2 separate regions of the Homo sapiens genome follow, and region 2 is linked to region 1. A link means that fine-mapping ties the variant in region 1 to the plasma level of a protein whose gene starts in the linked region. Region 1 holds a variant in brackets. A gene starts in the other region. All regions are shown on their forward strands.

What was found. PIP is the chance, under the fine-mapping model, that this variant and not a neighbour inherited with it causes the effect. Protein levels are from antibody-based Olink assays in UK Biobank. Linkage for the fine-mapping came from a reference panel and not from the study's own genotypes, which makes the PIPs less certain.
Region 2: it holds the start of CD248, and the variant in region 1 is fine-mapped to the plasma level of the CD248 protein (UK Biobank, PIP 0.97).

Annotation. Positions count from the first base shown.
Region 1 is chr1:161,552,120-161,566,910 of GRCh38, forward strand. No RefSeq gene overlaps it. Among named protein-coding and RNA genes, the nearest start is that of FCGR3A, 9.7 kb to the left of the region's middle. The variant T/A (reference allele first, on the strand shown) is at 7,282.
Region 2 is chr11:66,309,931-66,324,721 of GRCh38, forward strand. It overlaps CD248 (CD248 molecule), which reads right to left and starts at 7,114. Exons shown (of 1, transcript NM_020404.3): 1 at 4,564-7,114. The coding sequence starts at 7,097. The coding sequence ends at 4,824. RefSeq lists silencers at 2,271-2,520, 7,043-7,312 and enhancers at 5,863-6,559, 9,116-9,617, 9,618-10,117.

The sequences.
Region 1 (14,791 bases):
ATGGAATTCAGTTGATTGTCATCCTCTAGGACTTACAGTTTCTTAGGGGGAGAACATCAGATAAGTATTTGAAGTGCTAGAGGGACTGTGACAGTATTTATGAAATGCTGTGTATGCACAAAGAAGACAGTGGCTAATTCTATCTGAGGGAGGAGTGTACATGGAAGAGAGAACACTTTAATTAGATCGCAAAATATTCAGCAGGAAGATTTTTGAGAGAAATAGGCATTCCAGGCAAGAGGAGCAGCATGAGCAAAGACTTGGAGTGAAGTAGACTGTCATGTTTGCAGAGCTGGCTGTAGTTCCACAAGTGTAGTTGGATGTAGTTCCACAAGTGTAGTGAGTACTACAAAGGAGAAGCACAGGTTCCAAAAGGATTAAGATGTCTGGGTCTCACAGGAATCTGGAGGAAATCCCAACTCTGCCACTTATTTAACCTTCTAGCCCTCAGTTTCCTTATCTGTAAAGTGAGGCTAACAATAATGGCACTCATGGCTTAAATGAGATAATGCAGATAAAATTGTTGGTTCCATATTTGGTACCACACCTGCTGATTACTATTGTAAATGCAAGATGGGAGGTTGAGACCTTCCTCAATTTTCTAAATTAGGTTCTGACCCCCAACCCCACCCCAACTCCTTTAGGAGCTTGTGCTTCTCCTCTGTAAACTCATTGCATTTGTGGACTGAAAGGTCTTGGAGAGCAGGGAAGCTGTTCACCTTGTTTACCCCTGTACCCTCAACATTTAGCACAAGGGCAGGCACATACTAGGCACTCAATTAGTATTTATCACGAAGAGTTTTGTGTGTCAGGATGAACAGTACATATTTTATTCTAAAAGGTAATGGGAACTAATAAAAAGGCTTTAGACTGGGGAATCACAAGATCTGTTTTATATTTTATGAAAAGTACTCTGACAGCAGTCCAAGGAATGAGTTAGAGGGGAGAGAGATGGAAGGTGGAGGGAAAAGTTGGAAGATTATTTCAACAGTCTAGTTGAGACAAGAGCCACTCTGTTTAAAAAGTGGATATGCAATGGAAGCATCCAGGAGAGAAGTTAGGAAGGAAGGATGGACAAGACTTGGTGAGTGATTGGCTGAGGGGTGATGAAGGGGGAGAGGTCTGGGTGATGCTCGGATTTCTAATTTGGGTGATAAGGAGGATGGCAGTAGCTTTCATGGACAAAAGAAAAATGGGAAGATGAGCAGGCTTTGGGAGGGAGAGACAATGATTTCAGCTTTTGATGTTATTGAGTTTGAGGTAGCTGTGAAGGTTTCAGGTGAAGATTTCCAGTAGGCAGTGAGACACATGGCCCTGGAACTCAGAAGACAGGTCTTGACAAAAGACACAATTTAGGAGGCACCAACACGGTTGAGGTTTCAAACCTCTGATAAAAACCTTTGGGCCTTCTCCCAAGAAAGGATGCAAATATACACATTATGTTTCCTTTAATTTAAGAAGCTCTATTTGAATCCATCCAGAGATCCTAGGTTAAGATAAAGTAAGGATAAGATCTCTGAAACTGTAAGAGTATTGAGAGAGAATTAAAGGGAAACAGTGAGGGAAAGGAAGGAGGGATTGAGAGGGAGAGGAGAAGAGGAGAGAGTCAATGACAGAAACTTGACATGCAAACATTTTTGAAGCGTGCACAGGAAAAATAGCTGACAAAGGAGTTTGTATAGGAGGGGCTGAAGAGGAGGGAACAAGGAAGTTTAGTGGGAACAGATCTTCAAGGAAGGAGTAGTCAACAGTAACAGTATTAATGTTGTAGAAAAGAATTCAAACAAGAGTTTGATTGAAATATGGCAATCAAGGAACTATTAATGACCTTTTCCTGAGCAATTTCAGGGGCTGGGGCTGAGAAACAGAAGTTTGACAGCTTTTGGTTGAAGACGGAGTAGGAATGAAAAAGTGTTTAGTCAAGTGCTTCTCCTCTTCAGAATCTCCATTATGAAGGAATAGTGCACATATCATCTGGCTGTCCAGGATCACTTCCTCCTCCCCTTCTTATTAGCATATCATTCTTTCTGGAGAAGCCCCACTGTGAGTACTTAATAGAAAGCAGTGATTGCTTTCTACTATGGAAACCCGAGGGTCCAGATCTTCCTTTTCCCCACTTTGGGGCACTATTAAGGACTAAATTTTGTCTCTCCCAGTTCATATGTTGAAGTCCACATGTGGAACCCCCTATACCTCAGGATGTGACTATATGTGGATATAGAGCCTTTAAAGAGGTAATTAAGTTAAAATAAAATCATTAGGTGGGCTCTAGTCCAATATGACTGATGTCCTTGTTAGTTGGGACACAGACCCATACAGGGAGAAGATGGACACCTACAAGCCAAGGAGAGAGGCCTCAGAAGAAACCAACCCTATGGACTCAAAGGAAGAACAACAGACACACTGGGGCCTACTTGAGGGTGGAGGGTAGGAAGAGGGAGAGGATCGGAAAAAATAACTATTGAGTAACTAGGCTTAGTACATGGGTGATGAAATAATGTGTGCAACAAACCCCCGTGATAGGAGTTTACCTATGTAGCAAACCTGCACGCATACCCCTAAATCTAAAATAAAATTTTTAAAAAAAAAATTAAAAGAAACCAACCCTGTCAACACCTTGATCTTGGACTTGCAGCCTCAAGAACTGTAAGAAAATACATTTTTGTTGTTTAAGCCACCCAGTCTGTGGTACTTTGTTATAAAAGTGCTAGCTAACTGATACAGGCAGACAGAGGACAGGCATATAACTGAGGTTTGGCCCATTAGAGTCTCTTCTGAGATGAATCCTGAATAAGTGACACTTGTTTACTCATAAGGGAGATTCACTTCTAGGAGAGGGAGATGGTTGGGTCCCAGTCATCACAGCAGTGGGATGGGCTCACCTCCTCTAGTTTCCATCCAATAAATCTTTTTCCTCTACTTAAAAGATCTGGATTCTGATAAAGTTGTTTATAACCCAGAGCCCTAAGTGACACAATAAGAAAGGAGAAGTGGAGGATGGTAACTAGACAGAGCTGATTCATCAAGACAGGGGAATTGCAATAGAGAAAGAGTAATTCATGCAGAGCTGACTGAGCCAGAGACTGGAGTTTTATTATTACTCAAATCAGTCTTCCAGAGCATTCGGGGAGCAGAGTTTTTAAGGACAACTTGGTTGGTGGAGGGGAAGCCAGTGAGCCAGGAGTGTTGATTGGTCAGGGATGAAATCACAGGAAGTTGAAGCTGTCTTCTTGTTCTGAGTCAGTTCCTGGGTGGGCACCACAAGATCAGATGAGCCAGTTTATTGATCTGGGTGTTGCCAGGTGATCCATCAAGTGCAGGGTCTGCAAAATATCTCAAGCACCGATCTTAGGATCAGTGCTTAGGAAGGGTCAGAATCTTGTAGCCTCCACCTGCATGATTCCTAAACCATAATTTCCAATCTTGTGGCTAATGTTAGTCCTACAAAGACAATCTAGTCTTCAGAAAAAAAGGAGGTCTGCCCTGGGAAAGGGCTGTTATCATCTTTGCTTTAAACCACAAACTATAAACTAAGTTTCTCCCAAAGTTAGTTCAGCCTATGCCCAAGAATGAGGAAAGACAGCTTGGAGGTTAGAAGCAAGATGGAGTCAATTAAGTTAGATCTCTCTCACTGTTTCAGACACAATTCTGCAAAGGTAGTTACAAGAGAATGGGAGTTTTTGTTTTCTTTTAAGTGAAAGATACGAGCTTGGTTATAGGTCTTTGGGAAGAAGCCAGCAGGGTGGGAGAAGTTGGATGCCTAACAGGGACGGAACACCTAGAGAAGCAAGTGTGGGTCCTGAGGAGATGGGAATGGGACATGGACAGGGAGTTGGCTGTGAACTGGATACGGATTACCTCTCGCTCTGAGCTGAAGGCAGGAGCTGAGGGGGTACATATGCAAATCCATTTTCAGATGTTGAGTGACCATCCACATCTGCTGGTCCTGATTTTCTTGGTTAAGGAGGAGTCAAAGACACTTGTCGAGAAAGAGTGGGTAACAGTTGTGGTGGGGGTTTGAGAACACCAGAGTTGAGAATGGCCATTGTGGTGCATGGGAGAAGGAGCCGACTGTTTGTATGTACAAGAATTACCAAGAATTCCAAACAGTTGTAAGGATTGCCAAGCAATGCCAAAGGTCCAGCTGAGGTGGGTCGCTGTGCATTTGTAGCTGGAGCAGTCTTCAGTGCTGATAACATTTCTCCAGTTGTACTCAGTGCCAACTGCTGTCTGATTAGCCTGCTGAAAACGGTCCTGAGCAGGAGTGGAGGGAAGTCCTACAACCTGTATTACCTCCAAAGCAGCTCAACCAGACTGAGGAAATGCTAGAATGAAGGTATGTGGGCTTTCAGTGAGCTCATCCAAGACAGGTAGTCAAGAAGGCTGTGAGAAAGGTAGGCTGGCCTGGCAGTCTTTGGTATAGTCCAGCAGTTGAATTCCAGTTACCTATTGCTGTAACTGTAGAAAAAACAAACTCAGTTCCTCCCACTATGCTCTCACAACACATTTCTGACAACAGATATGTGGGGATTTCTCTCCACTGGCAAGCAAGCAAGCAAGCAAGCAAGCAATTCAGCAGTGGGCACCAACTGGGTGTCTTCTAATCCAGTGGTCTCCAAAATTTTTGGCACCAGGGATTGGCTTCATGGAAGACAATTTTTCCTCGGACAGGGGTAGGGGGGTGGGGGATGGTTTCAGGATGATTCAAGTGCATTACATTTATTGTGCACTTCATTTCTATTATTATTACAGTGTAATATTTAATGAAGTAATTATACAACTTACCATAATGTAGAATCAGGGGGAGCCCCGAGCTTGTTTTCTTGCAACTAGACAGTCCCATCTAGGGTGATGGGAGACAATGCCAGGTCATCAGGCATTAGATTCTCATAAGGAGAATGCAACCTAGATCCCTTGCATGCGTACTTCACAATAGGGTTCATGCTCCTGTGATAATTTAATGCCACAGCTGATCTGATAGGAGGAGGAGCTCAGGCGGTGATGTGAGCCATGGGGATCTACTGTAAATACAGATAAAGCTTTGCTCCCCACCTGCCCCTCACTTCCTGCTGTGCAGCCCAGTTCCTAAGAGGTCACTGACAACTACAGGTCTGGGGATTGGGACTTCTGCTCAAATTCAATTGAATTCCAACACTATCTAACTGGAAATAGCATCAGGTGACACAAGTGAAGGGCTCAGTCTCACAAGACACTTCTGATACTCCAGGATGAAGCCCCAGGTTGTTTTACCTGTGCTTTTGACCAACCAGTTATAAATGGGGGTTCCCACCACCTGCATCTTGGGTTCAATTAATTTGCTAGAGTGGCTCTCAGTACTCAGGGAAACATTTACATTTATCAGTTTGTGATAAAGAATATTACAAAGGACACAAGTAAAGAGTACATAGGGCAAGACCTGTGGGAAGGGGCTTGGAGCTTCCATGCCCTCTGGTGCACTACCCTCCAAGAACCTCTCTGTGTTCGGCTCTCTGGAGGATCTCCAAACCCTGTCCTTTTGGGTTTTTATGGGAGCTTTATTACTTAGGAATGATTAATTAAGTCATTGGCTATTGGTGATCAATTCAACCTTCAGCCCCTCTCCACTTCCCAGAGGGAGTTTGGAGGGTGGAGCTGAAAGCCCCAATCCTCTGACCTTGCCATGATCTTTCTTGTGCCCAGCCCCTGTTATGAAGCTACCTAAGAGCTGCCAGCCATCAGTTACCTCATTAGCACACCAAAAGACATCACTTTGGAGATTCTAAGGATTTTAGGAGTTGTATGCCAGGAAAAAGGATGAAGACTGTATAAAGGACCCTTGACATAACTAACTCCATCTTAGAAAAAGACTCCATTTTATATTTCGTAGGGCATTTGGCCAACAAGATAAAATGTTCTAAGAAACAAATTAAAAATGATAAAGACTGCATCCGACCAAATAAGGCCACAGACAAGCACACTCTTCCAACTTTCAGTTCTTATCACAGGACTCCACGACTAAAAGAGAAGGCCTTCAGCAGCTTGAAATGGCTATCTTAGCTGACACTGTCTTGCAGTCACTCATGATGATAATTTGGCATCTGCCACTGAAGGCTCTGCCACCTCAGACTCTTCTTTGCAAGACCAACGGGTAGCCAGGCCCAAACCAGGCCTCCTTTGTTCTTCTTAGATCCTCATCAACAGGCTTATTAACCCTTTCTCCTGTCTCTTTTTCCTCTTGATGTTAAATAGTACTTAGTTTGTTGTGGAACGTTTAACCTATAACATTTATGTAAATGTTATAGGTAGAGAGGATTGCCATATTTGGGAGAGAGGGTCTCTCTCTCTCTCTCCCACTGGACGTGAACAAGGGCTCATTTTGTCCTAAGGTCTTGCTGGCAGCTATCCTTAAGACTTTATAACATTTAGGAAGCTATACAGCTTCTCTTTCTGCTGTAGTCTAATCACCAGAAGTTATAAGCCCACCCAGATTCAAGGGTAGAGGATGTAGGCCTCATTTCTTGATGGAGAGAGTGTCAAAGAATTTGCAGCCGTGTTTTAGTGCTGCCACAACTAGCTACTCTAATACACTTTAAAGATTTCTTGATTCTTCGGTGGTGTGATTAGAGTAAAATCCTGAAAAATAGAAAGGCCTGGGGGAAGGGGAGACTGTAAGATCTAGGGAAGGGAAGATTTTTTATCCTATTCTAAGAACAATCACAGGAAGAAGGGAGGTAGTTGGTACTAACTAGAAAGAAGCAAGTCAGACAGACATTATCCATTCATCCCCTCCCAGGTCCAAGAGTTTGCTTACGATTATAAACAGCAAGAAGACTGTATTTCGTGATGCTCTCTTAGCTCAGGGCTACAGAGCAATGCTGTTGTATGTAGGAAAGAATGATTTCTTGAACTTGAATCCACAGTAGGTTCTGAGTTTTTTCCAACTCAACAATTGCTATGACTCAGTTAACTCAACAAATAGAATATGATGTACTAGCCTGATATCCATCCCTCTCCCTCCCTTCTAATATAACCTTGATTCTATTCAGGAATCACCCTCATATGCAGAGGTGGATCTTGACTGATCTAAGCCACTCAGGGTGTAGCATTCCCCTGGCTTTTATTGGTTAAGTGGGAGAAGACGGAACTTTGTCCTAAATAGGGCCAATCTGGTAGAGGGGAGTGCCATGTTTGGGAGAGATGATCTCTCTCTCCCACTGTACATGAACAAGGGCTCATTTTGTCCTAGGTTCTGCTGGCAAAACCTAAGATTTTGAAGGCAGCCAGTCTGAGGTCAATGCCAAA[T/A]AGCCAAGGAGGACAGAGTGGAGGGATAGAATATGGTCTTGGTGACATCACTGAGCTTCTAACGCAACCAACCCAGATTTCTTACAATTTCAAGTAAATTTCCCTGCTGTTTAAGCCAATTTAAGTCAGGGCTTGTTACCTTCATCCAAAGGCATCCTAGTGAATACCTTGGTATTTACTGAGTACCTACTAAAAAGATAAGAAACTCTCTTTCTGGAAGGAGCTAATAATGAACAGGGGAGGAAACTTGACATTTAATGAAGAAGAAAGAAATGCTGACCTGGAGACCAGGAGCTCTAGACCTAGCTATGTCACCCAGGGTGACCACCGATTAAATTGTCTAGATCTCAGTCTCTACAATCATGAAATGAGAAAGTGGAGTGTGGACTGTATGTTTGCTAAGATCTCCTCTGGCTAAATTACTGTGTCTTAATGTCAACTAGAGGAAATATGATGCCCCCACTTTTTTTTTTTTTTTTTTTGGTAAGCATCAGTGGTCCACAAAGAATTTAACAATTGGTACCAACAGAGAGGCAAAAAATACCTTTTTTTTTTTAGACAAAGCCTCACTCTGTCGCCAAGGCTGGAGTGCAGTGGCATGATCTCGGCTCACTGCAATCTCTGCCTCCCGGGTACAAGCGATTCTCCTGTCTCAGCCTCCCAAGTAGCTGGGATTACAGGCATATGCCCCCATGCCCAGCTAATTTTTGTATTTTTAGTAGACACGGGTTTTCGCCATGTTGGCCAGGCTGGTCTCGAACTCCTGACCTCAGGTGATCCACCCATCTCGGCCTCCCAAAGTGCTGGGATTACAGGTGTGAGCCACTGGGCCTGGCCAAGAAGGAATATAATTGCCTTTTAAGAAAATATTCTGCTTGCTTTCTTTTTTAGAGATGAGGTCTCACTGTGTCAGCCAGGCTGGATTAAAAAACTCCTGGACTCAAGCAGTCCTTCTGCCTCAGCCTCCTGAGTAGCCAGCACTACTGCCTGGCTTCTACTTGCTTATTTTAATATTAATAACAAAATATAGTAAGCTCTGAGCTTTAAATACAATAGATATCAAAATTATTTAATAAAAAATATTCATGGTCCCAGCATGGTGGCTCATACCTGTAATCCCAGCACATTGGGAGGCTGAGGCAGGAGCATTGCTTGAGGCCAGGAGTTCAACACCAGTCTGGGCAACCTGGCAAAACCCCATCTCTTAAAAAAATTCAAAATAAGCCAGGCCTGGGGCTACATGCCTGTGGTCCCAGCTACTTGGGAGGCTGAGGCGGGAGGATCACTTGAGCCTGGGAAGTGGAGGTTGCAGTGAACTGTGATCGTGCAACTGCACTCCAGCCTGGGCAACAGAGCGATACCCCGTCTCAAAACAAAACAAAACAAAATATTCACCATTATGTGTCTAGTAAAGTGAAGAAAAGAAATAGGAAAGGAAACTGTCAATATAAAAGAAAAGGGAGGAGAACAGGCAGAGTTAGAGACATAAAGACACAAAATGGGATGGGACTTAGAGGAAAACCAGTGAGAGAAAACTCAGAAAGACACAGTTACTGGGACAGTAAAAAACAAAACAAAACAAAAACCCACAAAAAACTGAGAGAGACACCCAGGTTTTCAAATATGGTGTCTTAAAAATAGATAGAAAATGCATGAAGAGCAAGGCATCTACTGAGAGGTCTGGAAACAGACACACCTCGAGATACATCATACAAAGGCAGTCATGGGACAAGGAGAGAACACTTTCACAAAACCAGGAAGAGATAGACAGACAACAAGGGAAAAAAAGCACATGGGATTGAAGCAGATTTTGTGGGATGACCTTAAGCTGCACCTGTTTTCTTTGGCTGTGGTTATTAAAATAATATGACCTGTTGACATACAAGAACTTTCTAAAATTTTATGCTATAGCCAAGAGTGAGTTTTAAATGCCCTGCCTTGTGCTATCTCACATCAGAACATGCTTAGATGCCTCCCAGACTTGCAAGTTTTTAAAGTTTCAAAAAGAGAGTGATGGCGATGTGTTATGGGAAGGATACTGGCCAAGGAGGAAGGAAATCTCAGTTTTGGTTTCGGTCTGACAGGGGTCAGTTGTCAAGCCACTTCTCTTCCCTGAACTTGTTTCCTCATAGCAAAGTGAGGTAATCGGGCTAGATTATATCTAACTCTTTCCATCTTAAATATTCTCTAATTCTGAATGTTGCCTTCCAGTGGTAATTTCTAGATATTGCAGAATGTAGTAGCCTTTGTCTTCTAAAAATCCTAATGAAGGCAGCTTTTGGGAGCCAAAAGGATTTTCTAGCAGAGCTAGCAAGTTATACTTCTAAGAGTTAAAAGTTAATTATAAAAACTAAATTCATGCTTCTGCTCATGTGCAAAATCTTCAGAATCTACCAGAACAATACAAGGTAACACCAAAAAGAAAACTTAGTTTTTGAAAAAGTTTTTGAAAAAGAAGTGGAAATACTGTTTTGTGTTGTTCTGTTTTTATCCGTGCCATCCCACTGGAGAAGAGAGAAAGGTTGGCAACATCATTGGGAGTATGAGCAGAGCTCAGAACCATCCCTAGAGACTCAGTCCTTGTCCCTTTCGCCAATATTTTGTTATTGTGGCTTTAAGCACTTTTTGGTTTGAAAATACACGCGTGATCTATATATGTTCTTGTTGCAAATAAGTGAAACAATTCGGACGTAAATAAAATAAAAGTAACAGTGAGATTTAATGACTCCCTCCCCCAATTTCACTCCCTTCCTCAGAGGTAACCCCTTAGAAGCTTGTAGTATATCTTTCCAGAACTTTCCCCATACACTTATATTCATATAAGCACACATCCACCTATATGTATTTATATTTTCTTCATTTTTGTTGTTATTGTTAGCATAGTACATAATGCATATTATTCTGCAACTTCCTTTTTTATAATGATTCCACATATACATAAACACCATGTTGTTTCACCATGTTGGCCAGCTGGTCTCGAACAACTGCAAACTCCACTCAACATCTTTCACATTTCACGTTAAATGGGAGGAGAAATGCTTAAAAAATGTATTTGAGGGTGTGTGGAAAGGAAGAAATGGTATTACTTTGACTTTCTTTTTTTTTAAAAAGATTTGGGTCATTTTGGCCACCAAAACAGGAACTTTATCCTGTATGGGCAGTTGCCTACTGCACAGCCATTTCTTCCCTTCTTCTTTGCTAACGGAACTTGATTTCGTTTAGCAATGTTGTGGTCATGAGCTGTAGAGAAGCCTAGACCTTTTCCAGCCTCAGTGTGTGAACTTTCAGTTAGTCTAAACCAGTGGTTCTCAAATTTGAGCTACATCAGAGCCATTTGGAGGGCTTGTTAAAAACACAACTTGGTGAGCTCTACTCTACCCTCCGAGTTTCTGATTCTGGTGGGGCTTGAGAATGTGCATTTCTAACAAGTTTCCAGGTAATGCTGATCTTGGCACAAGGACCACACTTTGAGAACTGCCGCTCTAAGCCAATTATGGTGTTCTATTGTCTTGCCATGCTTAGGACTAAGCATATGATACAGTTCTGGACAATTAATCCTCAGGGATAATCTGCTAGAGGGATTCTGGGACACAGGAAGTAACGAGTTCTTTCTCAGTCTTTGGACATGGTGATGCTTAAAGATGTGATGCTGGGAGCTACTACGGCAGCCAACTTGCTTCCAGAGAAGACTGGCTGACATGCTGAGAGTAGCAAAGCAAAGAGAGGGAAGAATCTGGGTTACTGATGACATTATTGTAGATTAAACAGCTCTGGAGCTGCCCTAACTTCAAGAAACTTAATATGTGAGATAGTAAAACATTTATTGTTATTTAAGCCATTTGAGCAGAATTTTCTGTACTTGCTTCAGAAAGCCACCTAACTGATTCATTCATACCCCTCTCTCTCAGTGCTCAGGGAGACTCCAGCTGATGTAGCAGCAGAGCAATTTACTTGAAGCATGATTTTGGATATTTTAGGTTGTTTCTAATTTTCATTATCATTCAGTAGCTCTGCAAAGAGTAACAGTGCTTTTGTATATTTTGGGATATTTCCAAAGGTCATTTTCCCAGAAGCAAAATTACAATGTCAAAAGTACATGAATTTCCAAGGTTTTGATAGTTTTTCCAAATCTCTTTCCAAAACAATTGTTTTAATTTCTACCCTATTCAGAAATATATGCAAGTTCATTTAATCACGTTCTTTTTTCTTAATTGTGGGCAATTTCATAGCTGAGAAATGGGGTCTCATAATTTTTATTTGCATTTATTTGATTACTAGTGTGGAATCAACATTTACCATGTGTCTGTCAACCAGTTGCATTTCCTCTTTCATATTGCTATTAGATGGAAAGCACTTAGCACCATGTCTGGCCCTCTTGGATATTTATTTTTTGTTTAACTAAATGTTTTTGGGTTTCTCTATTGATATCCCTGCCTTTGCCTATTTATCAAAACTCTATGTTCTTCTCATTAATTTCTTATATAATAAAAATACCCCTTTGCAGGGAGACATGAATTTTTACACATTTTTTTTCCAGTTTGCAGTTAGTAGTTTGTTTTTGGTTGGTTTTAGTTTTGTATCATTCCGAAATTTAAAAGTTTTATGAAGGTGTTTTCTTTTCTTTCTTTCTTTTTTTGTTTTTTTTTTTTTTTTTTTTTTGAGACAGAGTCTCACTCTGTTGCCCAGGCTGGAGTGCAGTGGCATGATCTCCGCTCGCTGCAACCTTTGCCTCACTTCCTGGGTTCAAGTGAGCACGTTCGGCTAATTTTTGTATTTTCAGTAGGGACGGGGTTTCACCATGTTGGCCAGCTGGTCTCGAACTTCTGACCTCATGTAATCCGCCTGCCTCCGCCTCCCGAAGTGCTAGGATTACAGGCATGAGCCACCACGCCTGGTCTCTTTTCCTTCAGAGAATTTACTCAAGATTCAATTCTATTATCCTCTGGTGTATCCATAGCTTGATTCGTGTGTTTCACTCTATGATCCTTATGAAACAGATTTGCTTGTATTCTGAGAGGAGCTGTCTGCTTAACAACTTGCCTGGCTCGAGGGGCTTACTAATGCCTTTTAGCTCCCTGCTTTTTGACTCTCTTTACAACTCTCCTTAGAACCCAACAAAAAGAGACATAAAATAAGTGACATAAAAATGTGAAATGCTTAAACCATTTATTTTACATTGCTGACTTTTTTCCATGTATCTTTCCTTTCTGATTAGTACTTAAAATCAAGGCAGAAGCACCTTAAAGATAGAAATGGCTAAATATTCTTGAACCTTTCAATCGTAGGATGCCAGAACAGGCCTCTAGCGTAGAAAATGTCTATACTGAGATCAAAGAGTCTCCCCTAGAGCAGAGTTTGTTGTATTCTGAGTATGAGGAGAGTAGGACAGTGTGATGGAGCTGCAGTGGAGTAAATGGGTTTTGGTATCACAGTGCTTTACAGAACACATTAAGGAGTTTGGGTTTTGTCGTGAGGGTGTGGGGAGCCACTGAATTATTTGAAGCAGGAAAGTGACATAATATAATTTGTACTTTAACAAAATTACTCTGGTTGCTGCTTGTAAATAGGCTGGAGGAGTAAGACTGGGAGCAGAAAGATGAGTTGGTCTCTTGCGGTAGTCATGGTGGCAGATGAAGATAGCCTCAGGCTAAGGTAATGGTGGTGGGGTTGAGATATTTAGCAAGGAGAACTGGCACAATTGGATGTGGGTTATGAAAGAGAATGTGGGAATCACAATGATATCCAGATTCCTGCCTTAGGAGGTGCCATTCCCTGAGGTGGGGAATATGATGGAAAGAAGCTTAGCTGGAAGGGGTTGTGGAGAGATGGTAAGTTCAGGTTTGGATATTCTGCGTTTGAGGTGCCTGTGGACATAGCAGGGGAGTGGTCAATATCAGCTGGGTAACTGGAAGGAGAAATCTGGGCTAGAGCTAGAGACACAGACTGGAGCTGAATTGTGCTTTTAGAAAATTAACTGGAAGCCAAAGAGATGACTCCTTATTTGCTGATACCTTGCAGCAGGTCTATTTCCAGTGACAAGGAGGCAAGTTTGAATTGGTTAGAGCCTCATTCACAGTTCTTCAAATGTTCTTGTCAAGTATTTACTTGCTACTAAGGAGGATGGCTTCAACCTTCCCCAGGACCATTTTCCAGCATCCTTCAGCATGTTTGCTTAGGACCAAGTTCCCACCCTACTGAATTTTACCCTTGCTGGAGACACATGCACTTGATACAGTTAAAGGGCAAAACAGGCCTGATGGGGAGGTTCCAACGCATTTGCGTTGCAGACCGTAGGCGTTAGAATCTAACTCCTAGTTTTCTACTACAACTTCAAATGCCACCCTCCTCACTAAGGGTCTAAAGCCAGAGTGCGGATGAATGAATCAAGCCTTTCTTTCTGAGTACCACTGTCTGAAGTCATGCTGAGGTCAAGAGACATTCAATCAGAAGAGCAGACCAAGTGGCTTAAGGTAAGTGCAGCCCCGGGTTCTCCTTGCTCTGGACTCTTTTTTTTTTTTTTTTTTTTTTTTGAGACGGAGTCTCCCTCTGTCGCCCAGGCTGGAGTGCAGTGGCGGGATCTCGGCTCACTGCAAGCTCCGCCTCCCGGGTTCACGCCATTCTCCTGCCTCAGCCTCCCAAGTAGCTGGGACTACAGGCGCCCGCCACTACGCCCGGCTAATTTTTTGTATTTTTAGTAGAGACGGGGTTTCACCGTTTTAGCCGGGATGGTCTCGATCTCCTGACCTCGTGATCCGCCCGCCTCGGCCTCCCAAAGTGCTGGGATTACAGGCGTGAGCCACTGTGCCCGGCCTGCTCTGGACTCTTAATCTCACTCCCCTAGACCATTAGTTGGCTGTTTGTTGCATTAAACCACTCAGATCTCTCTTTCATTTCCTTGTAAACTGGATTCCTTTGTCCTGCAGAAGAGATGTACACTGTCCACTTTTGTTTCAACAGAGGGCAGTAGAGAACAGCAAACAGTTTACATTTCTAAGCCCAGAAGAAACAAAACAAATCCATTTACAACATTCTCCCCAGGTCAAGGTACCCAAAATATGGCACACTGTGCTTCGTGTGTTCATAAATGGGGCATGTCTTTGTGAAAGTAGGGCAGATCCCGGAGAGTCAGCGACTCGTAGACGACTCTTCCTCTTGTGAACAACAGTTTAGTTATGTGTAACTCATGGAAGGCTTTATGGAGAAGGAGTTTGATCTTGAAGGATAAGTATGAGTTGGCAAGATAGCTTTGTTCACAGAAAGCAGCATGGGCTCAAACATGGCAATAGCATGGCAAGCTTGGGGAAGTTAGGAATAGGATTGGGCAGAATCTGACAAGACCGCAATATACCTCAAGACTCTAGGTGCTGGAATCTTCAGTATGGCACATAGCATCCTGTGCCGTGGGGCAGCTGTGATATTACATACACTCTCAGATGCTATGTGCCATCCCGAAGTGTTTGAATGTCACTTTGAAGGGTTTAATATCATCCTGAAAGCAATGTAAAATCAT
Region 2 (14,791 bases), not on the chromosome of region 1:
CACTGTGCTAGTTGGCCTCCCAGAAAAATCACTGGACTCACTGAAACCAGGCTAACACATGAGCCAACAGATGCCCCAAGGCCGCACCTCGCCTGGGCACATGGTCCAGATCCCACGATCCCAGCAAATGCTTTATTTACCAGCATCACCTGCCAAAGCCACAGACGACAAACTCTCCTTGGGGGAAGAAGGCTTCAATCTCTCTGGTCAATCTCAGTGCCGTCAGCCTCTCTGAGAGTCTGCGTCTTGCAGCCTCACCCTTAAAAGTGAGTTTCCCAGGGTGTGGGCATTTTCTTTTCTTTTCTTTTTTTAAACAGAGTTTCACTCGTCACCCAGGCTGGAGTGCAGCTCACTGCAACCTCCACCTTCTGGGTTCAAGCGATTCTCCTGCCTCAGCCTCCTGAGTAGCTGGGATTACAGGTACCCTCACCATGCCTGGCTAATTTTTGTATTTTTAGTAGAGACATGGTTTCGCCATGTTGGCCAGGCTGGCCTCGAACTCCTGACCTTAAGTCATTCCCCACGCCTCAGCCTCCCGAAGTGCTGGGATTACAGGCGTGAGTCACCGCGTCTGGCCAGGTGTGGGCATTTTCTGATTAGAGACTTGGCTATCACATATGGACTGGCTTTGCTGTAGGGGGTAAAGATCACAGGATCTGCCTGGGTTCAAACCCCCACTTACTAGTTGGTCAACTAGGGCAGATGGCTTAATGCAGTTAGGCAAGTGCCTTCAGCTTCCTACTCTGTAAATTGTGGTAAGAACGGCACTTACTTCTTGGAGGTTGTTATGAATCTTACATGGATTAAGCCAAGTAAAGCCCTTAAAAAAGGACCGGGCATGTAAGAAGTGCTTCAAGGCTGGGCATGGTGGCTCATGCCTGTAATCCCAGCACTTCGGGAGGCTGAGGTGGGTGGATCACCTGAGGCGAAGAGTTCGAAACCAGCCTGACCAACATAGTGAAACCCCGTCTGTATTAAAAATACAAAAATTAGCCGGGCGTGGTTGTGGGTGCCTGTAATCCCAGCTACTTGGGAGGCTGCGGCAGGAGAATCGCTTGAACCTGGGAGGCGGAGGTTGCAGTGAGCCGAGATGGCGCTATTGCACTCCAGCCTGAGCAACAAGAGAGAAACTCCGTCTCGAAAAAACAAAAACAAAAACAAAAAACAAAAACAAAAACAAAACAGAAGTGCTTCAAGCATTCACTATTATTATCGTCAGTATTTAGCGCTAAACCCTATTTACATTTGTAATGGCTAGTGCACGAGCATTGGAACCTGGTCTGGAAAGTATCCCTCTCCCCAGGCCTGATTTGCCCGGAGGTGGGTAAGGGCAAGGTTGGCAGCTAAGGCAGGAAGCAAAGGGCCCAACTGGAGCTCAGTGGTGTCAACTCCCTTCCTCCTCAAGGGTTGCTCCCTGTCTGTCCCACTAATGTTTGAAAAATATTTTACTGGGTTCCTAGCCCTGAACTTCAGCGTCTCCTGCCCTCCAGGCTGTTATTTTCAGAGGTAGAGATGAGAGCTGAGATAGGGTCTCCCTTGAGACACTGTCCCTAAAAACTACGACCTTCAGCTCCTAATTGAGGGCTTCCCCGCCCAAACCCACCCCTTCGCAACACAGCCCCCAGGGAAGGTGTCTAGCCTTTGGAGCACTAGGTGGGGGCGGGGGAAACCTGGTCCTAGGAATTCTAGGCCGCCAGATGAGAGGCGATGCTTTCGCCCTCCAGGCGAAAGGATTTGTCGGGGAGAGACAGCAAGAGTTCGACCAGCCAGCCACTTTAGAGATTGTCAGGGGCGCTCAGCTCATAGGGTGGCTCGAGGGCCAGTGCGAAGCTCCCTTAGGGACGAATTTCCACATACGACGAAAGGCATCTGCGAAAGGATGGGCTGTCCCGTGGGGGGAGTCGGCAGATATTTAAGTAACACTAACATTTAACGAATTAAGCAGCTATTTCTATTTACTGAGCAATTAGTACGCTTTGAGAGAGAGGCCCTACCGAGGCCTCGCGGTGGCTGTAAGTCCGTGGGGCCGAGGCCAGGTGGCGCCAAAGGCCCATCGACGCCATCTGCCCGGCTGTCCGGGCCCAGTCTCCGGGCTCGCCCAGAGAACCCGAAATCTGGACAAACGGAAACCGTAGGTGGAGGAAGAAGAGGGCTCCAGGGCCAGGTTCAAGGGCATCGTGGTGAGAGATGAGGGGTTCGGAGGACTGGTGGATCTGGGCATATCGCGAAGGTGGTAAGGGACCCAGGGGTGGAGTGGGCGGTGCTTGCGCCAAGAGGGTGAGCCTGAGTGTGGGCGGGGCGTGCGATAAGAGGCTCGCTCGGTAGCGCTCTTCGCAGAGCCGTATTTGTGCGCTACGCCGCAGCCAGGGCGCTCTGGGTGGGCGGGACTCCAGGGCCCCCAGGGGCGTGGCTTGCATCTTTCGTGGGCGGCCCCGGGGGCGGGGCTCCGTGTAGGTGAACCGCTACCTCCGCTCGATGTGTGAGGTGTGACAGTCCTACGAGGGCGCAGTTCTTCCACTTTTGTGAGCTTGAGAGGGGGCGGAGCTTGTAGCTGGGGACGGAGCCTGAAGAGGAGGTTGAGGGGAACTTCACACGTTTCCCTGGAGGGCGGAGTTTACATCATCCCCCAACAGAGTTAAGACCTCTGAGGGATTCCCTGCAGTGTCCAGGGCTCTGTGAGGCGAAGCTTGCAGTTGTGTTGGGCGGGGCCTGTAGCGCCGCGTGAAGAGAATGTGTAAACTCGGGGCGAAGTTCATACCTCCTAGAAGCCGAGACTAATAGTTCCGCCAATCTGCGCGCGCCGAGCGGAGGAGGTGGGGCTTGTAGGTTGTGGGCGGGGGACTGGGCGGGGCCAAGAGGGCAGGGGGCGGGCACAATCGCTGCTGGAATCTTTGAGTTGGCAGGGGCGGGGCTTGTGGCTTTGTGGGCGGGGCCTCTGGAGAGCTCCCGGGGGCTCTCTTCTGTTCTGCAGCGAGTAGGCGTGGCTCGTAGCTCCCAGGTCCGGGCTGATACCGCTGGAGTATGCAGTTCGCCGCCGCGCCCGAATGAGGCGGGGCCTGCGAGTAAGTGGGCTGAGCCCGGGCTGGGCGCAGGCCGGGGCTCTGCCCTGGGAGGCCGTCTGTTTAGGCCCGCACGCAGCTCCGCATCTGGTGCTCATTACCAGATGACAAAGAGCCGGCTCTGGGCCCCCTTCCCCACTCCCATCCCCCGCCTCCGACTGCAGTGTATTTAACTGTTTCCTGCCCTCGAGGCGCTCTAGATCCCTACCCGAGGTCACGGAGGGGACTCCAGACCATCCCGTCTCTGCAGGCCTTGTCGCTCCCCAGGCTTCCTCACCTCCTTCCCAGACTCAGCCGTCTGGGCCGCCTCGCAACCCTCATTGGCATCCAGCAAACCTGCCCGACGGCGTCTCCGAGGTTAAAGCTGTGCAGGATCTGGCGGGGACGTCTGGTTTGAGTTAGGGGAACGTGAGAGCGGGGACCGGGGGCGGTGCGTAGCGTTCCCTCCGCCCCCTCCGCGACCCCCTGGTTCATCCCCAGCTCCGGCCCCTCCTTTCCTGGTTCCCTGGGGCCCAGCTCAGCCTTCCAGCTCAGGTCCAGGCCCGAAGGGGGCGCTGGGCCACTCCTCCTCGCCTGCCCGGGTGGTCGTGGCGGCTCTGCCCCGTCCTAATTAGAGGCCCCCAAGAGGCTGTAACTGAAAAATTACAGAGGCGGTGGGAACTGGCGCCTCCCCTCCCCAGGTCTCACCCCCGCCCCCCAAGGCAGTGAGCACGAAATGAGGGAGGTCACTCCCACCAGGCTGTGATCTTTGACCAGGCCCTCCAGTTCCTGGGACACTTCAGTCCTGAGCAGCCGGAGCCCTCGCTCAAGCTCAGGTCTGCTGAGCTCTGTCTGTCCCCCACCACCCCCAGCCAACATGGACAAGAGCAACGTGCGGCCCTGGCAAAAGGAGGCCTTGCTCCTGCGGCTGTCCAAGCAGTTAGCATGGGATCTCTCCCAGGTTCCCGGCCTTTCCCATCCCAGCCTCCTCCCCGGAGCAAGCGGAGGAATGCCTCCAAGAGCACCCACAAACCAGGGGTTGGCAGTCCCCTTGAGTTACCCTGAGCCCCAGCCCCCAACTTCCGCGAAGCTTACAGGGATGGGAAGGGAAGTGTCTGAAGAAAGGAGCAACTCACCCACTAGACCCCTCCTTCACTCCTCTGAATCACCAGCCCCAGAGCCTACTTTGACCCCTAAACCCCAGTCCGGTTCAGCAGATGCCCTAATTCCACAACCGTCCCCCAGATTCAGCCCCACCTTCTTGGAGCTTTGGTAAAATAAGGAATAAATATGAAATTCTCCCCATGCCAAACCTCCCACTGCTGGGCTCAACTGTGTGACCTTGGGCAAGGCTCTGCCCTCTCTGGGCTCCTGCTTCCCTGAGAATCTCTGAGGCATACCCTCCCTTAAAGGGATCTTACCTTATCTCTTTGAGGACTCAGACAAACTGAAGGAAGATCCCCTCCTTTTTGCTGAGTCCTCCCAGAACCTCCCTTAAGCACCAGTGGGGGTCAGAAGCCTTGGGTAAGGTTGACACCCCATTTATTGGAGAAGACCCCAGCACCCGCCCCCTGAGGTCTTAAGGGCTTTGGTGTATCCTTGGTCACGAGCGCTGGGCCAGGAAGCAGAGTTCCTGAGAGCCAAGTCTAGTGGTTGAGAGAGGACCCTGGCTGGGCCTGGGGAGCAGGAAGCCATCTGTCCAGCTGGGCAGCCCCCATGGGTCCCTGGTGCAGCCCCGGCCATGTGTCCAGCGCCCCATACTCCATGAGGGGGGTCTGCACCCCATCACACGCTGGTTCTGCAGGTCTGCACCCCTGTGAGGCTGCCCCTGGGGGGCATGGGTTCTGTTGGGCTCTTGCTCCCAGCATGGATGACCCAGCGATAGCAGTCAGTGATGCGCTTGTTGGGTGCATGGGGGCCACAGCGGGTGCAGTACACGATGCCCAGTGCAAGCAGGACCACCAAAAAGACACACGTTGGCACCAGGAGTGCCACCAGCAGCCACCGGTCATCCCTCTGGCTGTGCTCGGCAAGACCAGCCTCCCCCAGGGCTGTTGGGGCTGCTGTGGGAGCTGGTGAGGGCAGCCACAGGGCCAACTTGGGACTGGGGCCATCTTCCCTTGGGATTTGGGGGGCTTTGGAATGGGGATGTGTAGGGCTGATGGGTGAGGTCTGGTTAGTGGGGCTCTGAGAGGGCAGGAGGGTGGGGAGGGCTGCGGGCTGGGTGGCAGCAGGCACAGAGATTTGATGGGCAGGAGACACAGGGGACCTGGAGGTGGTGGTCAGAGAGGGCTGGGCAGTTGGGATAATGGGAAGCTGGGTGGCCTGGGTTCTGAGGACAAGGGCATCTGGGGCTTGAGGGGGTAGCTGGGCACCGAGGGTGGTGACCAGAGGGGCATGGTTAGGTGGGATTCCAGGCAAATGAGTGGTGGTCTGGGTGCCAGCGACCCGGGTGTCTGGAAACATGGGGGACTGGTGGGCAGGGAAGAGCTCCGGATATTTGGTTGAGATCATAGGGGGCTGGTGGGCAGGAGGCTGTGCTGAATGAGAGACAGAGAGAATACCGGGTTGGTAGGCAGAAGGCAGATCTGGATAGTTGGCTGCGATCACGGGGATCTGGTGGTCACGGGACAAAGCTGGGTGTGTGGCAGGGATCACAGGAGGCTGGTGGGCAGAAGGCAGTGTGGGATGCGTGGCAGAGACCACCACAGGCCGGGTGACGGAGAGCACTGAGGAGTGGTAGGGGACCCTGGGGGCACTGAGCGGGGGTGGCCAGGTGGGCTCCGGGTAGGGTATCTGTGGCTCTCTGTCCTCTGGGAAGCTCGGTCTATAGGCCAGGGCAAAGTCAGGCGGCTGCGTAGGCTCCATCCACAGGATCCCAGGCATCTCCGTCCAGCCACCGTTGAAGGCCTTCCAGGCCTCGTCTTCATCTTCCTCATCCTCCCCGTCATCCAGCAACTCATCTCCGAGGTCCTGGGAAGCCTGGGCACCCATGGCCCCTGCAGGGCTGCAGCTGATGCCATCAGCCTCCAGCTCATGTCCCTCGCTACAATAACACTCGAAGCCACCAACGTAGTTGACACACATCTGCTGGCACACACCGGCAATCTGGCACTCATCTGTGTCCACACAGCGGTGCGGATCATCCTCCGCTGGCCGGAAACCCAGGCGACAGTGGCAGCTGTAGCCTTGTGGCCCACCGGGCTCACACTGCTGCTCGCACGGAGCCTGGGCACAGGGGTCCTCGCAACTGCGCCCGTCTGCTGCCAGCCGGAAGCCCTCAGTGCAGCGGCAGGACACGTGACCATCCACCTCCTCCACACATTCGTGTTCGCAGCCCCCGTTGTCAGGGCTGCAGCCAGTCCCCAGGCACAGGGGCCCAGCCCGTGACCAGCCCACACCTCCCTCAGGCTGCTTCACGCAGAGCAGAGAGGCTCCCCTGCCAGCCTGGCACTGCACAGCGGCCACAGAGCCGAAGGGCAGCCACTCAAACTCTGTGGAGACCAGGTGGAAGGGCGTGGTATACACGGCTGGGCCGGCCTGGCCCGCCTCATCTTGCAGCGCCGGGCAGGCGCCCTCGAAGCCAAACTGGCACAGGTAGCCGTCGACAGCCAGCGTGCACGAGCCCTCCAGCCAGCGGTGCTCGCCACTTGCCTCCAGGGCCACACAGCGCTGGGCCGGGCAGGGGCCTCCAGAGGCTGGCTGGGCCCAGTTGGTGAAAGCCGTGTCCTGGTCCCCTGTGGTCCACGTGAAGCCGCGCAGTGGGCGCTGCAGCTGGCATTGCCGGGCCTGCCGCTGCAGCCCGATCCACAGCAGCCGGCTGGCTGGGCCCGCACCCACCAGGCTGTCCACACGCTGGGCCTCCTCGGGGGTCCGAGGAGTGGCCAGGTCGCCCCCCAGCTCGCGGCAGGCCCGCCAGGCCTCCAGGAAGGTGCGGCGCCGTGGGAAGAGAGCGTAGCAGCTGCTGGGGCCGCAGGCGGCACGGGGCTCAGCAGCCCAGGGGTCCTGGCCCAGTGTGGGCCCTGCGGCCGCCCAGGCCAGCAACAGGCGCAGCAGCATCGCGATGCCCCCGGACTGGTCCGGCCCCGGGCTGGCGGCAGCTCTTGACAGGGGGAGGGCCTGGGGCCTCCTGCGGGCGGGCCGGGGGCGGGCCTGGGGCCGGGCTCAGGCCTTGTAAGGAGTGGGCTGGGGCGGCTGCCAGCTCCCTGCTCCCTCTTCCCCGGGGGCCGCTAGAGCAGGAAGCAGTGGGGTGGGGGGCTCTAAGGTTGGGGGCGGAGGAGGGGAGAAGGCGCAGTTGACGGCTGCCCCAGGCCCCATGGGGCTGAGAGTCAGGGGGTGGGAAAAGCCTGCCTGCCGAGCTCTGTGACCCTCAAGTTGGGGCTCGGGGCTGTGGGGTGAGGTCGCTTCCCAGAGACTCAGAGACCCAAATCTGGACACAGCAGCCCCATCACACCCGGGAGCAGTCTCAGCCCAGCTGCTCGCCATGCACGGGAACACCCTCATGCCCACTCCTTTCTTGCCCCACAGACGCGCGCATGCGCCTCCCCCACCCCCAACCCCATGCAAGAGTGCACTCTCTGCCAAGCTGTTTGTCCCTTCACCTCACCGTGGACCTATGCTGGCTTGCAGATGACTCCCTTGCCACACGTACACACATTCTGACATGCTGAGACCCTAGGTGCACATACAAAAATGGTGTGGCATTCTACATGGCCTGACATATGAAGACCTCCGATTCGGCCTGAATGGAAACAGCTTGGTCACCCAGGCACAGGCATCCTCAGCCTCTCATTTATTTACTGAGCCCCTGCGTCAGCCTCTCCCCCTATACTCAAGCTTTCTGGTTCCAGCTGGGCCAGCGTGTGGGGGTGTTGGGGGAGTGAGGGGGCCAGGGGCTGCCCTCCCCTCACCCCAGCTCAGCCTGGGGCCCTGGGAACCTGGGCTTAGAGGGGGAGGAGGCAGCCCCTAAACAGGAAATGCCTCTCTGGGCTCCTGCGTCAGGAAGGCAGGGTGCGTGGTTTAGGGGGCTGGGTGGGGGCTGGGCTGCACGCAGGATGTGGAAGGCTGTGAGGGGACCCATGCAAGGCCATGTATGGGCATGGGGCACACAGTGACATATATGTGTATATGTGACACAGGCATCACGTGTGTGGAGCCCTCCCTGCCCCCGGGGCCTGCTGTTTCGGCCTGGCCAGGGTCCTCTTCCCGCCCTTCCTGGAGGCCTCTGGAGGCATGTGCACTGAGCCCATCATCCAGGATGGCCTCTGGGGAGCTGGCTGGCGGATTAACCCATGCACACCCGCTGCACTCTTAGCAGAAGTTAGAAACAGTGTGGGGAGGTGGGGGAGAGGTTCCGCCCTTCAGTAAACTGCCCTGATGCAGCTTCCCCCTCTGCCACAGATGGATCGACTTTGTGACTGCAGGGGAGTCACTGGCCCTCTCTGGGTCTCCTTTTTTCTCAGTTGCAACATGAGGGCAATGAGTCCAGGATTTTTAGCTCAGCAGGGCTGAGATATTGCGTCACAGCGCTCAGTGTTTGCAAATGTGCTTTGTCAGCTGTGGAGCCTGAAGCAAATGTTCCTGTCTTCTGAGCATATGTGGTGGGTGGAGACCAGGGTGCGTTTTTGCAAACCACCTTACAGTGCCTAGGCTGGCCCTGCAGACCCAGCCAGCCCCTCGAGAACCAGGGCTTAGGAAGTTCTTGCCATATGCCTGGAAGTTCCTTCTTACAAGGTCTATACATGTGAAGCACACAGAATGACTCCCCTTCTCAGGAGACAAAAGTCAAGATGGAGGAGTTCATCCTTCTGTTGGCTCAGGCCCCAAACCTTGAGGTCATGCTTGACTCCTCTCTTTCTCCCACAGCCCACATCCAGTCTCTCAGCAAATCCTGTTGGCTTCACTTTCAAAAGAGATCCAGAATCTGACCACTCCTGGACACCTTCTTTGCCACCCACCCCCGGCCCAGGTGGCTAGCAACGCCAATCTAGATTTCCCCAACAGCCTCTCCCGTGGTGTCTCTCTTGCCCTCTCCATCCTGCCAGAGGGATCCTTTCAAAATCCAAGTCAGATCTGATCACTTCTCCATTCAGAACCCTCTGAGCCCCCCATCTCGCTTAGAGGAAGGGCCACAGTCCTTGCCATGGCCTCCTGGTCTATGTCATCTGCCTCCAAACTCTGGCCTCATTGCTGTTCCTTAAATGCTCCAGACACTCTGCCTCACAGCCTTGGTCTTGGCTGTTCCTGCTGCCTGGAATGCTCTTCCTCCAATATAAAAATGCTCTGCTTCTTTACCTTCTCCAGGGCTCAGCTCAAGTACCAGAGTCCTTGACCATCTCACCCCACCCCACACCGCCCCCTGGGGCTCCTTGACCACTGGATCTTCCTGCATTTTCTCGCTCTGCACTTATCACTATCTGACATTAAATATATTTACTTGTGAAATTAGTTGGACGTGGTGGTGCACCTGTAATCCCAGCTACTCGGGAGGCTGAGGCAGGAGAATCATTTGAACCTGGGAGGTGGAGGTTGCAGTGAGCCAAGATTGCGCCACTGCACACTCCAGCCTGGGCGACAGAGCAAGACTGTGGAAAAGAAAAGAGGAGAGGAGAGGAGGGGAGGGGAGGGGAGAGGCGAGCGGGAGAGAAAAAGAAAAGAAGGAAAGATGTTGGGAACAAGCCCCCCAAAATTTGGCCATAAACTGGCCCCAAAACTGGCCATAAACAAAATCTCTGCAGCACTGTGACATGTTCATGATGGCCATAACGCCCACACTGGAAGGCTGTGGGTTTACCAGAATGAGAGCAAGGAACACCTGGCCCCGCCCAGGGCGGAAAACCGCTTAAAGGCATTCTTAAGCCACAAACAATAGCATGAGTGATCTGTGCCTTAAGGACATGCTCCTGCTGCAGTTAACTAGCCCAACCTATTCCTTTAATTCAGCCCATCCCTTCGTTTCCCATAAGGGATACTTTTAGTTAATTTAATATCTATAGAAACAATGCTAATGACTGGCTTGCTGTTAATAAATACGTGGGTAAATCTCTGTTCGGGGCTCTCAGCTCTGAAGGCTGTGAGACCCCTGGTTTCTCACTTCACACCTCTATATTTCTGTGTGTGTGTCTTTAATTCCTCTAGCACCGCTGGGTTAGGGTCTCCCCGACCGAGCTGGTCTCGGCAGAAAGAGAGAACGAACGAAAGAAAGAAAGAGAAAAGACTTACATGTTAGACCTAAAACCATAAAAACTCTAGAAGAAAACCTAGGCAATACCATTCAGGACATAGGCATGGGCAAGGACTTGATGTCTAAAACACCAAAAGCAATGGCAACAAGAGCCAAAATTGACAAATGGGATCTAATTAAACTAAAGAGCTTCTGTACAGCAAAAGAAACCACCATCAAAGTGAACAGGCAACCTACAGAATGGGAGAAAGTTTTTGCAACCTACTCATCTGACAAAGGGCTAATATCCAGAATCTACAATGAACTCAAACAAATTTACAAGAAAAAGCAAACAACCCTATCAAAAAGTGGGCGAAGGATATGAACAGACAGTTCTCAAAAGAAGACAATTATGCAGCCAAAAAAAACACATGAAAAAATGCTCATCATCACTGGCCATCAGAGAAATGCAAATCAAAACCACAATGAGATACCATCTCACACCAGTTAGAATGGCGATCATTAAAAAGTCAAGAAACAACAGGTGCTGGAGAGGATGTGGAGAAGTAAGAACACTTTTACACTGTTGGTGGGACTGTAAACTAGTTCAACCATTGTGGAAGTCAGTGTGGTGATTCCTCAGGGATCTAGAACTAGAAATACCATTTGGCCCAGCCATCCCATTACTGGATATATACCCAAAGGATTATAAATCATGCTGCTATAAAGACACATGCACACGTATGTTTATTGCGGCACTATTCACAATAGCAAAGGCTTGGAACCAACCCAAATGTCCAACAATGATAGACTGTATTAAGAAAATGTGGCACATATACACCATGGAATACTACGCAGCCATAAAAAATGATGAGTTCATGTCCTTTGTAGGGACATAGATGAAGCTGGAAGCCATCATTCTCAGCAAACTATCGCAAGGACAAAAAAAACCAAACACCGCATGTTCTCACTCATAGGTGAGAATTGAACAATGAGAACACGTGGACACAGGAAGGGGAACATCACACACCGGTGACTGTTGTAGGGTGGGGGATGGGGGAGGGATAGCATTAGGAGATATACCTAATGCTAAATGACAAGTTAATGGGTGCAGCACACCAACATGGCAAATGTATACATATGTAACAAACCTGCACGTTGTGCATGTGTATCTTAAAACTTAAAGTATAATAATAATAAAAAAAATTTTTTAAAAAGAAAGAGAGAAAGAGAGAAGGAAGGAAGGAAAGGAGAAGAAAGAAGGGGAAGGAAGAAGGAAAGGAGAGGAAGGGAGGGGTGGGGATGGGAGGGAAAGGAAGGGAAAGGAAGAAGGGAGGGAGGGAGGAAGGAAGGAAGGAAGGAAAGGAAAGAGAGAGAGGAAGGAAGGAAGGAAGGAAGGAAGAAAGAAAAAGAAATTTACTTGTGGATTTGCTTATTGCTTATGGCCCAAATCTCCCCTAGCCAGTGTTTCTCAACCTTGGAGTTACTGGTATTCAGGCCTCGGTAATTACTTGTTGTAGGGACTGCGTGGTGCATTGCAAGGTGTTTAGCAGTGTTCCTGGCTCCTATGTAGATGCCAGTGGCATCCCTCCAGTTGGACCATCCAAAATGTCTCCAGACATTGCCAAATGTCATGTTCCCTGGAAGCAGCATCACCCCCAGGGGAGAACTTCTGCCCTTGGAGACTGTGAGCTCCATGAGAGCAGGGTTGTTATTTGGTTCCCTGCTCTATCCCCAAGCCTAGAAAGCTCCTGACTCATTCACGATGCCTCGTGAATGAGCTTCAAAGAAGTGATGAACCTGGCTCAGGGAGATGCAGTGGGGAGCTGGGATTCTTCCTGCAGCCAAAGCTCACTTGTCCCCAACACTCACTGGCCTTCCACATGAAGTCAGACCACCTCTGGCAATCGGCAGGCCTTTTTGCAGATGGGGAAACTGAGGTACAAGGAGTTTCAAAGAGTGTCGGTGGCAGGAATGGGACTAGAGCCAAGGTCTCCTTATTCTTATTCCAGTTCTCTTTTTGCTGTAGCACCCTCAGGCATCATTTGAGCAAAGTTCTGAGAGTTAGGCCTCAAGTCAAAAACCAAAGACAGGGCAGGGCACAGTGGCTCACGCCTGTAATCCCAGCACTTTGGGAGGCCAAGGTGGGCCGATCACATGAGGCCCGGAGTTCGAGACCAGCCTGGCCAATATGGTGGAACCTCGTCTCTATTAAAAATACAAAAATTAGCCCGGCGTGTTGGCGGGTACCTGTGGTCCCAGCTACTCGGGAGACTGAAGCACAAGAATCGCTTGAACCTGGAGGCGGAGGCTGCAGTGAGCCGAGATCACCCCCTGCAGTCCAGCCTGGGTAACAGAGACTCCATCTCGAAAAAACAAAAACAAGATGGGAGGAAGGCATACCAGGAAGAAGGCACAGCCTGGGCAAGACTACTGAGGTGGCAGAGCTCAAGATGGGTTTGGAGAATACAAAGGACTCCACCAGGCTGAAGTGAGGGACATTGTTAGGGACAGTAAGGAGTGGAGAAAAGGAGTAGGGGCCTGTCTTGAAAGGTGTTGAAGTTGTCCCTAAAAGTCCGGGGCTCCCTTCTGGAGGCCATGGGGAAGAGAGGCATGATGAGAGATCTCTGTGGCTTGTGTGTGGTGGGTGGAGGGGGCTTGGAGGCCAGGGACCAGTTAGGAGGCTGTTGCAATAGTCTGGGAAAGGGGAGGGAGCTGGCTGGAGAGCCCGGCGGCAGGGCGGGCCGGGCTGGGGGAGGCAGCCTCCAGAGGCTCCTTAGGGGCAGTCCTGAGCCTGGTCCAAGGGTGTGGTGAGCCCAGTCATGAGTCGGGCAATGGCCAGTACTAGGGCGTCTAAGGGGACGGATGGCTGCAGGCCGTCTGACAAGTGGGTGGATGGGATCAGAGGTCAGGAGTCCAGCCTCTGTGGGGGTGAGGGGTTGGGGGGCAAGCAGGCAAAGCAGGAGAAGAAAGGTCAAAGGCCAAATTCCAGATGTCTTGGCTGGGCCTACTTGCAAGTGGAAGGAGGCCTGAGCCAGCATGAGGGATGGAGAAGGCAGGAAGGGGCACCTCTGGCCTCTGTGAGGCTAAGCGTCTGGTGGATTGGGAATGAGACTTGGAGAGGTATCTGGTTGCTCAGTTCGGGAGGGTGCCCAGCACTCAGCAGCCTCCCCAAGGTTGTGTGAGGTAAGGTTGAGGCTGCCCAAGAACTGTTTTATCTAGTGAGGCTGGAGGATGTAGCGGGCATAGCATCAGGGATCTGGGTTTAAGGGGCTGGAGAGGGGTTGGTTGGGGTCTTGTTCTTCCTGCTAGTCTTTCAGCCTAGCAGAGAGAAGATGCTAATTGATACAATAAATGCTTGGAGGATGGGTGGGTGGATATATGGATGGATGGATGCATGGATGGATGGAGGCATGCATGAGTGGATGGACTGATGGACGGATGGATGAATGCATGCATGGATAATGAATGAGTGGGGTGGCTGGCTGGGTGGATACATGGATGTTGATCTGGGGTGGGTGTGTGGGTGGATGGATGCATGGATGGGTGAATGCATGGGTGTGTGGGTGGGTGGATACATGAGTAGATGGGTAGATGGATGAATGCATGTATGCACAGATGTATGAGTGGGTAGAAGGATGCTTGGGCAGAAGATGGATGGATGGGTGGATGGATGGATGGATAGATGTATGCATGCATAGGGCTGTATGTGGCTGGACAGATGCATGGGTGGGTGGCTGGACAGATGCATGGGTGGGTGGATGAGTGGGCAGAGGCATGCATAGATGATGCATGGGTGCGTGGTGGGTAGATGCATGAGTAGATGGGCAAATGGATGGATGCATGGGTGGGTGGGTGGATGGATGCATGCATGCATGTATGAAGGCATGGGTGGGTGGATGCATGGGTGGATAGATGGATGGATGCATGGGTGGGAGAGTGAATAGATGGATGGATGCATGGATGCATGGGTGGGTGGGAGGATGTTTACGTGGAGAATAGGTGGATGGGTGGTTGGGTGGACGGGAGGCTAAATGGAAGGATGTAGAAATGAGTAAGTGGATGGATGGATAGATGGGTAGGTGGGCAGGTGTGTGGATGAGAAGATTTTGAGATGCATGTTTGGATATAGGGCCACAGGCAGAAGTGGGAGGTCCTGAGTCATAACTAGCAGCCACCATGATGAATGACATGCTCAGAACAGAACTCCGCGGCTCTGCAGAAGTGCAGCCCAGGACAGGACAACTTAGACTACCACTGGCAGGGATCAGGTGTGATGCTTCTCGTGGTACCAAACAGCCTGTTTTCTGCTGGGTTCTGAGGCCAACATGTCTCCCTGGCTGAGGGTAGGGACGATGTACCTTCCAAGCTCAGGAGGCCAGGCTCAGCTCACATCAGGGGTCAGGAGGCTGGGGTTCCCTGCTCTGATCATGGCCCATATGAGGGGAGCTCATCTGAAGAACAGCATGAACACAGAGGCCCATGGCCTGAGAAGGAGCCTTGTCTTGCAGCTACTGGGACAGGCAAGAAGCAGATGGTGGTTTTGGATGCCATGTGTGGGCCTGTGGGGGTGAGGGTGAGGGCGGCCTGA